Linked DNA regions of Homo sapiens: region 2 is linked to region 1. Evidence: fine-mapped expression QTL. A gene starts in region 1. The other region holds a variant in brackets. All regions are shown on one strand. Distances are between the middles of the regions.

The links.
Region 2: its variant is fine-mapped to the expression of KLF4 in whole blood (TOPMed, PIP 0.95).

The regions. Positions count from the first base shown.
Region 1 is chr9:107,486,384-107,491,748 of GRCh38, reverse strand. It overlaps KLF4 (KLF transcription factor 4), which reads left to right and starts at 1,980. Exons shown (of 5, transcript NM_004235.6): 1 at 1,980-2,581; 2 at 2,699-2,819; 3 at 3,482-4,454; 4 at 4,557-4,721. The coding sequence starts at 2,577. RefSeq lists silencers at 1,699-1,908, 2,268-2,467, 3,119-3,168.
Region 2 is chr9:107,610,390-107,615,754 of GRCh38, reverse strand. The region is part of intron 5 of LOC105376205 (a long non-coding RNA gene); the gene reads right to left. Among named protein-coding and RNA genes, the nearest start is that of KLF4, 120 kb to the right of the region's middle. The variant A/G (reference allele first, on the strand shown) is at 3,217.

The DNA of each region.
Region 1 (5,365 bases):
ATCACAAATATTCTGAGGAAACCTAATAGGTACCAGAATCGCAGGGTTCAAACAGGTGACAACGACAAAGGACATTGGCAACTAGAACTCAAAAAGGGGTGAGCGCACTCTCTGCCCGGTGCCCGAGCTTCCACCACTTTCCCCAGTGTCCCCTCTCTTCTCTTTCCTAGGTTGACACCAGCCTAAGCGCCAGCGTTCGCCGGTGAGGGGGCTCCGTGGAGAGGGGGGCGGAGTCCCGCGCCGAACGCCGGAATCCAAAGTAAACACCTCGCCAAACCTACGTTTAGAAAGTGATACCGAACACCACATTCACGTTTTAAAAAAAAATACTGTTTGCTAAGAAGATGAGAGCAAAACATTTCCCAGCTGGAAAATTACTGATCACAAACCAAGGGGAGAGTGGGGGTGGGGGAGGCAGCGTTATAAGATTGAAGTAAAGATCGCCGTTTCCTATTCCCTTCCCGGTGGGCAAGGACGCCTGCGGCGGGCTCGGTGTGCACTTTTTGAGAGCTAGGATCCCACCGCATCGCTCCACTTCCTGGCACATGGTCACTTCCCAGGGAAGTCCCTTTAGGGGGGCCTGACCTACCCGGAGCCTGAGCCGAAGGAACGAGTTGTCCTTTGACCTTTACTGGCCATTTCACCTCTTTATGACTCAATTTCTCATCCATAAAGTGGAAAGGAGAGTGCGTGGCTTGAAAAGTCATCAGTGAGTGTTTAATTCTTCTTTAATGGGTGTCTTCTATTATTATTATTATTCTACAGTGCAATTTAGTCATCAAATATTACAGGCAGTGGCTCACGCCTGTAATCCCAGCACTTCGGGAGGCCGAGGCAGGCTGATCACTTGAGGTCAGGTGTTCGAGACCTGCCTGGCCAACATGGTGAAACCCCGTCTCCACGAAAAATACAAAAATTAGCCGGCGTCGTGGCGCACGCCTGTAATCCCCGCTACTCGGGAGGCTGACGCAGGAGAATCGCTTGGACGCAGGAGGCGGAGGTTGCACTGAGCTGAGATCGTGCCACTGCATTCCAGCTTGGGCGACACAGCGAGACTCTGTCTCACAAAAAAAAAAAAAAGAAAGAAAAAAAAAGGAAAGGGCTTCGAGATGGCTGGTTGAAAACTGTCTCCGCGCCTCACAGTCCCTCTTCTCTCCCTTATGCCTCTGAGTAAATCTTGAGCCCTTTCACTCCCTTTCTCGCTATTTAAAGTATCAAAACCATAACTCCCCATTCGTGCCTCTTTCCGCCTGTTCCCGGCGGAACACTCCTCTGGCCTTCTCTTGAGGCTCCCAGTTCACGCTGCACAGTGCTGGGCACTGCCTCCTCTCCACACCCCTAGCGCCCCCCACCCCTCAGCAGAAGGGCCCGCGAGGAACCGTGCGAGGTCAGGCCGAGCGCCGGCACCGCCACCGGCACTGGCGCTGAGCGACGAGAGCGGACTCCTGCGAGCGCAGAGAGGGAGGGGGAGATGGAGGGCTGGATGAGTCACGCGGATAATCGCGCTCTTCTCCAGCGCGCAGACAGCGCGGCAAGCGCGTATGCTAGCAGGGGTGCGGACGCGTGACCGTGCCGCCCGCTGACCCCACCAGTCTTCGCGGGCTTCGAACCCAGGGAGCCGACAATGGCGGTGAGTACGGCCCTGGTCGCGCAGCGACCGAACCTGCGCCCGGTTCCTCGCGCCCCGCGCTGGGGCGGACGCCGCCGCCGCCGCCGACACCACTGCCGCCGGCGTCAGCTCGGCTCCAGCCCGCCAGCTGCCTGGCTGGCGTCACGGCCCGGCCCAGCCCCGCCCGCGCCCCTCCTTCCCCTCCCCCGCCCCCACGTGCGCCGAGTTTGTTGATTTAGCTGCCATAGCAACGATGGAAGGGAGCCTCGGGGGGGGCGGAGAGAAGAAAGGGAGGGGCGGGGCATGGGAGAAGGCGGAGGAAAAGGCTGTAGCGAAGGAAGTTATAAGTAAGGAACGCGCGCCGGCGGCCGGCAGTTTCCCGACCAGAGAGAACGAACGTGTCTGCGGGCGCGCGGGGAGCAGAGGCGGTGGCGGGCGGCGGCGGCACCGGGAGCCGCCGAGTGACCCTCCCCCGCCCCTCTGGCCCCCCACCCTCCCACCCGCCCGTGGCCCGCGCCCATGGCCGCGCGCGCTCCACACAACTCACCGGAGTCCGCGCCTTGCGCCGCCGACCAGTTCGCAGCTCCGCGCCACGGCAGCCAGTCTCACCTGGCGGCACCGCCCGCCCACCGCCCCGGCCACAGCCCCTGCGCCCACGGCAGCACTCGAGGCGACCGCGACAGTGGTGGGGGACGCTGCTGAGTGGAAGAGAGCGCAGCCCGGCCACCGGACCTACTTACTCGCCTTGCTGATTGTCTATTTTTGCGTTTACAACTTTTCTAAGAACTTTTGTATACAAAGGAACTTTTTAAAAAAGACGCTTCCAAGTTATATTTAATCCAAAGAAGAAGGATCTCGGCCAATTTGGGGTTTTGGGTTTTGGCTTCGTTTCTTCTCTTCGTTGACTTTGGGGTTCAGGTGCCCCAGCTGCTTCGGGCTGCCGAGGACCTTCTGGGCCCCCACATTAATGAGGTAGGTGAGGCGCGCGGCGCTGGGAGCAGGGAGGGGTGAGGACCGGTGGGACGCGCCGGAACGACGGCCGAAAGCCGCCCCTGACTCTCCTGTCTCCGCTCCCTGCCTTGCTCGCAGGCAGCCACCTGGCGAGTCTGACATGGCTGTCAGCGACGCGCTGCTCCCATCTTTCTCCACGTTCGCGTCTGGCCCGGCGGGAAGGGAGAAGACACTGCGTCAAGCAGGTGCCCCGAATAACGTGAGTATCGCTCCGGGCCGCCGGGAACGCCCGGTGGGTTTTCGTGGGTGTGGTGGGGGCGGGCGGAGCCTTGGGGTCACCAAGAGCCACTGAACGAGGGTAAGGAGCGGCCACCGCGCGGACTCCGCAACCTTCCCGGGATAGCTTCCGTGTCCTTGGCTCAGCTGTGTATGCCCGTGGTGCGAGCACTGCGGAGCCGCCTGGGGCGCAAGCCGGGTCTTCACCAGTCCCCGGGCGCGCTGTCGGTAGGGCGGGCGCTCTCGGGCCACCGGGCGGGAGGTGGCCGCGTCCCCAGACACTGGCTGGGCCAGAGTGAGTTTAGCGCGTAGGCGGCCCCGTGGCGAGAGCGCACCGAGAGAGCCTCGGTGTGCCAATTCCGGGGACGTCCACGGGACCTGGAGGGGGAGGGACCAGCCGCGGCGCTCGCTCACACGCAATTGGGCAGACAGGACATAACACCCGCAATACAGACGCATCACCTCTTCTTCGACCCGGGAGTGGGCCGAGATTGCAGCGCTGGCGCCCTGGGTTCCCGGGTGCTTCCTGCCTGACCAGTCCCCATGTCTGGGCGGTGCAGTCGCGCGTGGCCCGCCAGCACGTCAGTATGTCGGGTGGCAACAGGGGACCACCACTGACAGGTCTCTCCCGCCCTGTCCCCGCAGCGCTGGCGGGAGGAGCTCTCCCACATGAAGCGACTTCCCCCAGTGCTTCCCGGCCGCCCCTATGACCTGGCGGCGGCGACCGTGGCCACAGACCTGGAGAGCGGCGGAGCCGGTGCGGCTTGCGGCGGTAGCAACCTGGCGCCCCTACCTCGGAGAGAGACCGAGGAGTTCAACGATCTCCTGGACCTGGACTTTATTCTCTCCAATTCGCTGACCCATCCTCCGGAGTCAGTGGCCGCCACCGTGTCCTCGTCAGCGTCAGCCTCCTCTTCGTCGTCGCCGTCGAGCAGCGGCCCTGCCAGCGCGCCCTCCACCTGCAGCTTCACCTATCCGATCCGGGCCGGGAACGACCCGGGCGTGGCGCCGGGCGGCACGGGCGGAGGCCTCCTCTATGGCAGGGAGTCCGCTCCCCCTCCGACGGCTCCCTTCAACCTGGCGGACATCAACGACGTGAGCCCCTCGGGCGGCTTCGTGGCCGAGCTCCTGCGGCCAGAATTGGACCCGGTGTACATTCCGCCGCAGCAGCCGCAGCCGCCAGGTGGCGGGCTGATGGGCAAGTTCGTGCTGAAGGCGTCGCTGAGCGCCCCTGGCAGCGAGTACGGCAGCCCGTCGGTCATCAGCGTCAGCAAAGGCAGCCCTGACGGCAGCCACCCGGTGGTGGTGGCGCCCTACAACGGCGGGCCGCCGCGCACGTGCCCCAAGATCAAGCAGGAGGCGGTCTCTTCGTGCACCCACTTGGGCGCTGGACCCCCTCTCAGCAATGGCCACCGGCCGGCTGCACACGACTTCCCCCTGGGGCGGCAGCTCCCCAGCAGGACTACCCCGACCCTGGGTCTTGAGGAAGTGCTGAGCAGCAGGGACTGTCACCCTGCCCTGCCGCTTCCTCCCGGCTTCCATCCCCACCCGGGGCCCAATTACCCATCCTTCCTGCCCGATCAGATGCAGCCGCAAGTCCCGCCGCTCCATTACCAAGGTCAGTCCCGGGGATTTGTAGCTCGGGCTGGGGAGCCCTGTGTGTGCTGGCCCCACTTCGGGACACACGGGATGATGCTCACCCCACCTTCTTCACCCCTAGAGCTCATGCCACCCGGTTCCTGCATGCCAGAGGAGCCCAAGCCAAAGAGGGGAAGACGATCGTGGCCCCGGAAAAGGACCGCCACCCACACTTGTGATTACGCGGGCTGCGGCAAAACCTACACAAAGAGTTCCCATCTCAAGGCACACCTGCGAACCCACACAGGTAGGGGGACAAACTGCAGAAGGGAGGGGGGTTAGCTTCCAGCCCCATAGGCTACCAGTGGACACTCCTCAGTGCCTCCTTGACTTCCCAGGTTAGCTTCCAGCCCCATAGGCTACCAGTGGACACTCCTCAGTGCCTCCTTGGCTTCCCAGGGCAGTCTATCGCCTTGATCTCCGGGATCACTGGAGAGAACAGCAAACCGGCGCCTACTTTTCTGCCCAGGAGCCTTTTGCTTGATGGATGGTATCTGTGTTTGAATGTGCAATTTTGTTAGGCTTTTAAAAGGCAGGAGATTCCCCGCGGTCTGTGGGCCTCTCCTAGCTTGGCATTATAATCAAGAAATTATACTTTGCTATGCAAAAGCATGATGGCTTTTTTAAAAAAATCGTTTTTTAATGTTCCCTTCCCAGGTTCACCCTCCCTTTTTGTTATTTTGAATTCTGGTCGTAACAATTCGGTCTTACTTTTTTATTTTTTATTTTTTGTTCGTTTTGATTTACATTTTTATTTTTTTTCCCCCACAAGCAGAAGGTTTTATTTTAAATTCCAAGAATATGATGGTCAAAATTGCTGGGAAGATTCTGATTTAGGGTTGTCACTGCAGAGCATTTCCATGTCAATGTAAGTAGGTACCCAAAGTCGTT
Region 2 (5,365 bases), 120 kb before region 1:
GATGGCAATAACTCCTCCAACAAAGAGGCTCTGAAGGAGGCACTAAAATTACAGAGTGTGTCACTTTGCCCCTTGCCTCCTGTGGTTGGATGGCTTCTGTAAGTTTGCAGAACTTCCAAGAAGAGGTGGTTGAGTAAGAAAAATGGCTGTTTCAATAAATCTGATCAAGCTGGGTAGAAAAGCATGAACCAGCAACCGGATCTCTGATTAGAGGCTGGAGAGAAAAGGGTGTGCTGGGAGAACTCTCATCATGTGGGCCTCACAATCTATCTAACATAAAGCTTTCATAGCCAAGTTTCACAATTTCCCACCACATGAGCAAACTTCATTTGCCTTGATGAGGCAATAACTGTGTGCATTTATTTATATATTTCCCTTTTCCTCCTCTCCCCAGCCTCCTCACTAATCCACTTGGCCTTTTTCTCAGGCCCTGCTTCAATCTTTCTCCTTCATAGCCTCAGAAGCAGTAAAGTTGTGTAGGGTTTGGGGGCTCAAGTCCTCGGTTCAGATACCACCTTCCACCTCCTGACTGCATGACCTCCACTTCCATGGGCCTTCGTTCCCTCTGCGTGGGGGTTATTCACTCCAGCCTGGGGGTGGGGGCTGCTGTCAGGATCAGTGTGCTATCTCACGGATGATATGGCAGGTGCTTGTGGATCATAGTTTCTCTCTTCCTCTGTGTGGGGAGGGAATCCAGCCAGAAGCTCAAAATGGATTTGTTTTGTTTGTTCAGGAATTAGGGAAAGTGAGAAACTCCCAGACCCAAACCAGTCTTGAACTGAAGTCTGGGAGTAGGGAAAGCCCTTTACTGCAAACACCTGTAGAAACATCCTGGTCTTTTACAAGCCTCTGGCGCCTTCCGCCAGGGTTGTGAGACCGATTGAGTTGGAAGGGCCAGCACCTGTGCACTCGGTGGCCCAGTGGCTCTCCATTCCTCTCTGCCTGGCTTTGCCCTGAACCCCCAGGTCAATTCAACCCAAACCATGGGTAAAGCAGAGCTCTAACAGAGAACGATCAGCGGAGATTTGTGACAGGGCTCTTGAAGGACAGTGTGGCAGGCTGGCCGGCCAGGTGCCCATTCACAATGTGTGAGTGCCCCACGCTCCAGGGCATGTCACACCATGCCCAGCCTCACAAGCACTGGGACCCTGAGAGAGTGTCCAGGGTCTTCTTCAGTCCCATCAGTCCTTCTCAGGATGAGGAGAGGAGGAGGAACTGCTGAGTGGCCCTGGACAGCTTGCTTAGAACCTGTGTGGTCTGTGATACGACATGCCATGCTCTTTTGCAGGCATTTTCATTTTACCTTTCCCTTACAAGGTAGACCCTGTTAGGCCCATTTTACAGATGAAGAAACTGAGGCCCAGGGAGATGTGAAGTGTTCAAGTGAACTTAGCTGGACAATAGCAGTTCCAGTTTTCTAATCTGTGTCTGGCTTCCTATCCAATGGCCTCCCTACTCCCCAGGAGCTACCAGACACTCAGTTCAATGATCTGTAATTTTTCAGTCCTTCTCCAAGTTTTCAGTGTCCTGGGCCCAGCTTAAAGGGCAAACGGGATGAAGAACGAGGTGCCAAGCAACAGAATATGCTTGCTAGCAGGTGATTTGGGGTTTCCTTCTGCATAGTCATGGGGCAGGAACACCCAGTCTTTGCCCATGGTAGCAGTGGCCAGGGCTCCTAGAAGTCATCCCAAAGCAGAAGACAGCACATGAGTAGTCCCCATCAATTCCTGAAATACCTTTAAGTCCCAAAGTTCACTAGTTGTCAATGACAGAGTCTCACATCTAGGAAACACCCATCACATAGCCAGCTTAGGCAAAATGAATGCCTTTCAAAGGCTATAGTACTAGCAGAGAAAAAAAACAAAAAAACTGAGCAAATGTGGCTTGGGTCTGTAGCCAAAATCCAATGTTAAATAACAGGCTGGGGGTGGGGAAAGAAAAGAAATAATTCATCAGTAGAATGATACAGGCAGTCCATGGGTATCACCAGAACTGCATTTTCTCACCATATAGAGTGGTTGTGTAATTTCCCCCATTTCTCTGTCAATAAGGGGCTAGTGCTATCGGTGAAATAATTTACAACCCAATGTGCTCCACTGTAAATGGGTGCTATGTTTACTGGCTGTAAAAACACCTCTGAACACACTGACCTTCAACAGGTGAGCCCTTGAGTTTATAGCACTGAAGAATTGTTTTACTGCCTCAGCACAGGCAACAGGCATGCTGGACACCTGTTGGGGGTGAAGGGTAGGGAATCAAGCCCTCTGGGGATTCAGGGAAAGGAATCCTAAGAACAAGCTGCCCCCAGTGTGAGCCAACCAGATCAAACAAACCTCCAGGTGTCTGGTCAGTGCTGGGTCCATGGTAAGCATCTGAGTCTTGGATGAACCCACTAAGCAAGTCCAGGCTAGAGACTGAGGCCTGCAGAGCACTTCCGGAATTGGAGAACCCTATGGAAGGCCAGTAGGATGGAGTCCAAGGCAGATCCTGAGGGAACTCCAAGCACTGAGCTGGGGGAACCTAAATAAATTGGTCAATATGAGGGGCAGGAGCAAGAGAAAGACCGAAGATAGGAATTACAGCCAAAGGCCCAATGTTGAACGAGTCTAGAACCCAGGCAAAGCAAGTTTTCTGCAAATAATTCATGAACCAAAGAAGCAGAGCCTCTGCCTTTAATGACGGCCACCAAAAGGTACGTGGGTGAATAGAGCAGACAGAAAAGGATAGGACTGGGGTGAACAAAAATGTTATTCTGGCCAGGAGCAGTGGCTCGCGCCTGTAATCCCAGCACTCTGGGAGGCCGAGGTGGGCGGATCGCCTCAGGTCAGGAGTTCGAGACCAGCCTGGCCAATATGGCAAAACCCCATCTCTACTAAAGCTACAAAAATTAGCCAGGGGTGGTGGTGCATGGCTATAATCCCAGCTACTCCTGAGGCAGGAGAATCGTTTGAACCTGGGAGGCAGAGGTTGCAGTGAGCCGAGATCATACCACTGCACTTCAGCCTGGGCAACTGAGCGAGACTCTGTCTTAAAAAAAAAAAAAAAAAAAAAAAAAAGGTTATTTCTTTCTCACCCTTCAGCTTGCTCTGGAAAGGTTTTTGTTTTTCCCATCCACGCCTTAGTATGGAGGTTTCAGAGAGGCCCCCATGGGGAGCACACTTCCCCAAAAGCCAATTACCAAAATGGCCAGAAGGATAAATGTGCCAGCCTCAGCCC[A/G]GCATATATTCTTTGAGTCTTCACCAGAAAGCTAAAGTGGCATTTGACAAAACCTCTGGAGTGTTTCAAACTATGTTATCAGGCCCAAATCCTGATGACAGACAGAAGAGTATAAAAGAATAAAGATTTCCCAGATGAAAAGCACGCTTGGAGGGTCCTGAGCCCTTGCAGGCAGTGACGAAATCAAGGGCTGCATGCAGTTTGTTCACATGAAGAGCCCTGGAAGAAGGCTTCACACTCAGCAAGCGCCCTGGCCAAATGAGGAAGAGCCAAGCAGGCTGGCCTGAGGTTGCTCCATACCCTGGGCCTCTGGGGAGAAATCAGAGGAAGCAAACCGTTGTGTCCACACCAAATGAGAAACCTAGTGATTTTCATTCCCGGTGTTTTTAATTTTGTGCCTTTGAAGATCATCTTAATTTTTTAATTAAAAAAAATTACAGTTGATGACCTGCCAGTTCTTCACACACACAATTATCATTGAAAGCCAAGGGTCCCCACCTTTTTGCAAATAAACAGGCAGAATAATCTGTGAGAAGACCTCACGGCCAGGCAAGGTGGCTCATGCCTGTAATCCCAGCACTTTGGGAGGCCAAGGCAGGCAGACCACATAAGGCCAGGAGTTTGAGACCAGCCTGACCAACATGGCAAAACCCTGTCTCTACTAAAAATACAAAAATTAGCCATATGTGATAGCTCATGCCCGTAATCCCAGCACTTTTGGAGGCCAAGGTGGATGGATCACTTGAGGCCAGGAGCTTGAGACGAGCCTGGGCAACATGGTAAGACCCTATCTCTACTAAAAATACAAAAATTAGCAGGACATGGCGGCACACGCCTGCCACCCCAGCTACTCCGGAGGCTGAGGTATGAGAATCGCTTGAACCCAGGAGGTGGAGGTTAGCCAAGATCATGTCACTGCACTCCAGCCTAGACAACAGAGTGAGACTCTGTCCCCCCTGAAAAAAAAAAAAAAAGCCAACAGGTTGCTGGGGTTGGGGAGGGGTCCTTCATTCCTGTCTCTGCTCTCCCTACTGCACACATGTACAGGTGCAAACACACACTCACACGCACACACAAATACACCCCTACAACTCCCCAAACAAGACTTGTTCACCACCATAACCCAGCACCTAGCACTGGGGCAGGGATAGTGCAGCCACTCAGTGAATATTTGGCAAATAAACTGATTAATATATAAGGATATAAGAGAGCTAGAAACCAGACATGCAAGGAAGGGAGAGGAGAAAGAGTGACAAAGTGGGGGTGGCTTGGGATCCCACCCCCAGACGGTTCATCCATCTATTGGCAATAACAAGCCCTAGCATAACACCCTTCAGATTATAAAATCCAGACGCATCTCACATCACTTTTGATTCCCACCACTCCCCCTACTCCCAGGAGGTAAGGATCTTTGTGCTAATGCTAGGAAAAAAACTGAAGCAGAGGAAAGGTCTACTGGTTTGTTCAAGGTAGGAAAGAAAACAAAGCTAGGAACTAAAACTTCTGAAGTCAAAGCTTGGGCTCTGGGCCATGCACAGTGGTTCACGTCTATAATTCCAGCACTTTGGGAGGCCGAAGTGGGCAGATCGCCTGAGGCCAGGAGTTCAAGACCAGCCTGGGCAACATGGTGAAACCCCATCTGTACTAAAATTACAAAAAATTAGCTACTTGGGATGCTGAGGCAGGAGAATCTCTTGAATCTGGAAGTGCCTGTTGCAGTGAGCAGAGATCGTGCCACTGTACTCCAGCCTGGGCGACAGAGCAAGACTCCATCTGTGATGGTTAACGCTGAGTGTCAATTTGATTGAATTGAAGGATGCGAAGTATTGGTCCTGGGTGTGTCTGTGAGGGTGTTGCCAAAAGAGATTAACATTTGAGTCAGTGGGCTGGGGAAGGCAGACCCACCCTTAATCTGATGGGTATAATCTAATCAGCTGCCAGTAAATCTAAAGGAGGCAGAAAAACATGAAAACGTGAGACTGACTAGCCTCCTAGCCTACATCTTTCTCCCTTGCTGAACGCTTCCTGCCCTCAAACATCAGACTCCAATTTCTTCAGTTTTGAGACTCGGACTACACTCCGTGCTCCTCAAGTTTGCAGACAACCTATTGTGGGACCTTGTGATCATGTAAGTTAATGCTTAATTTAT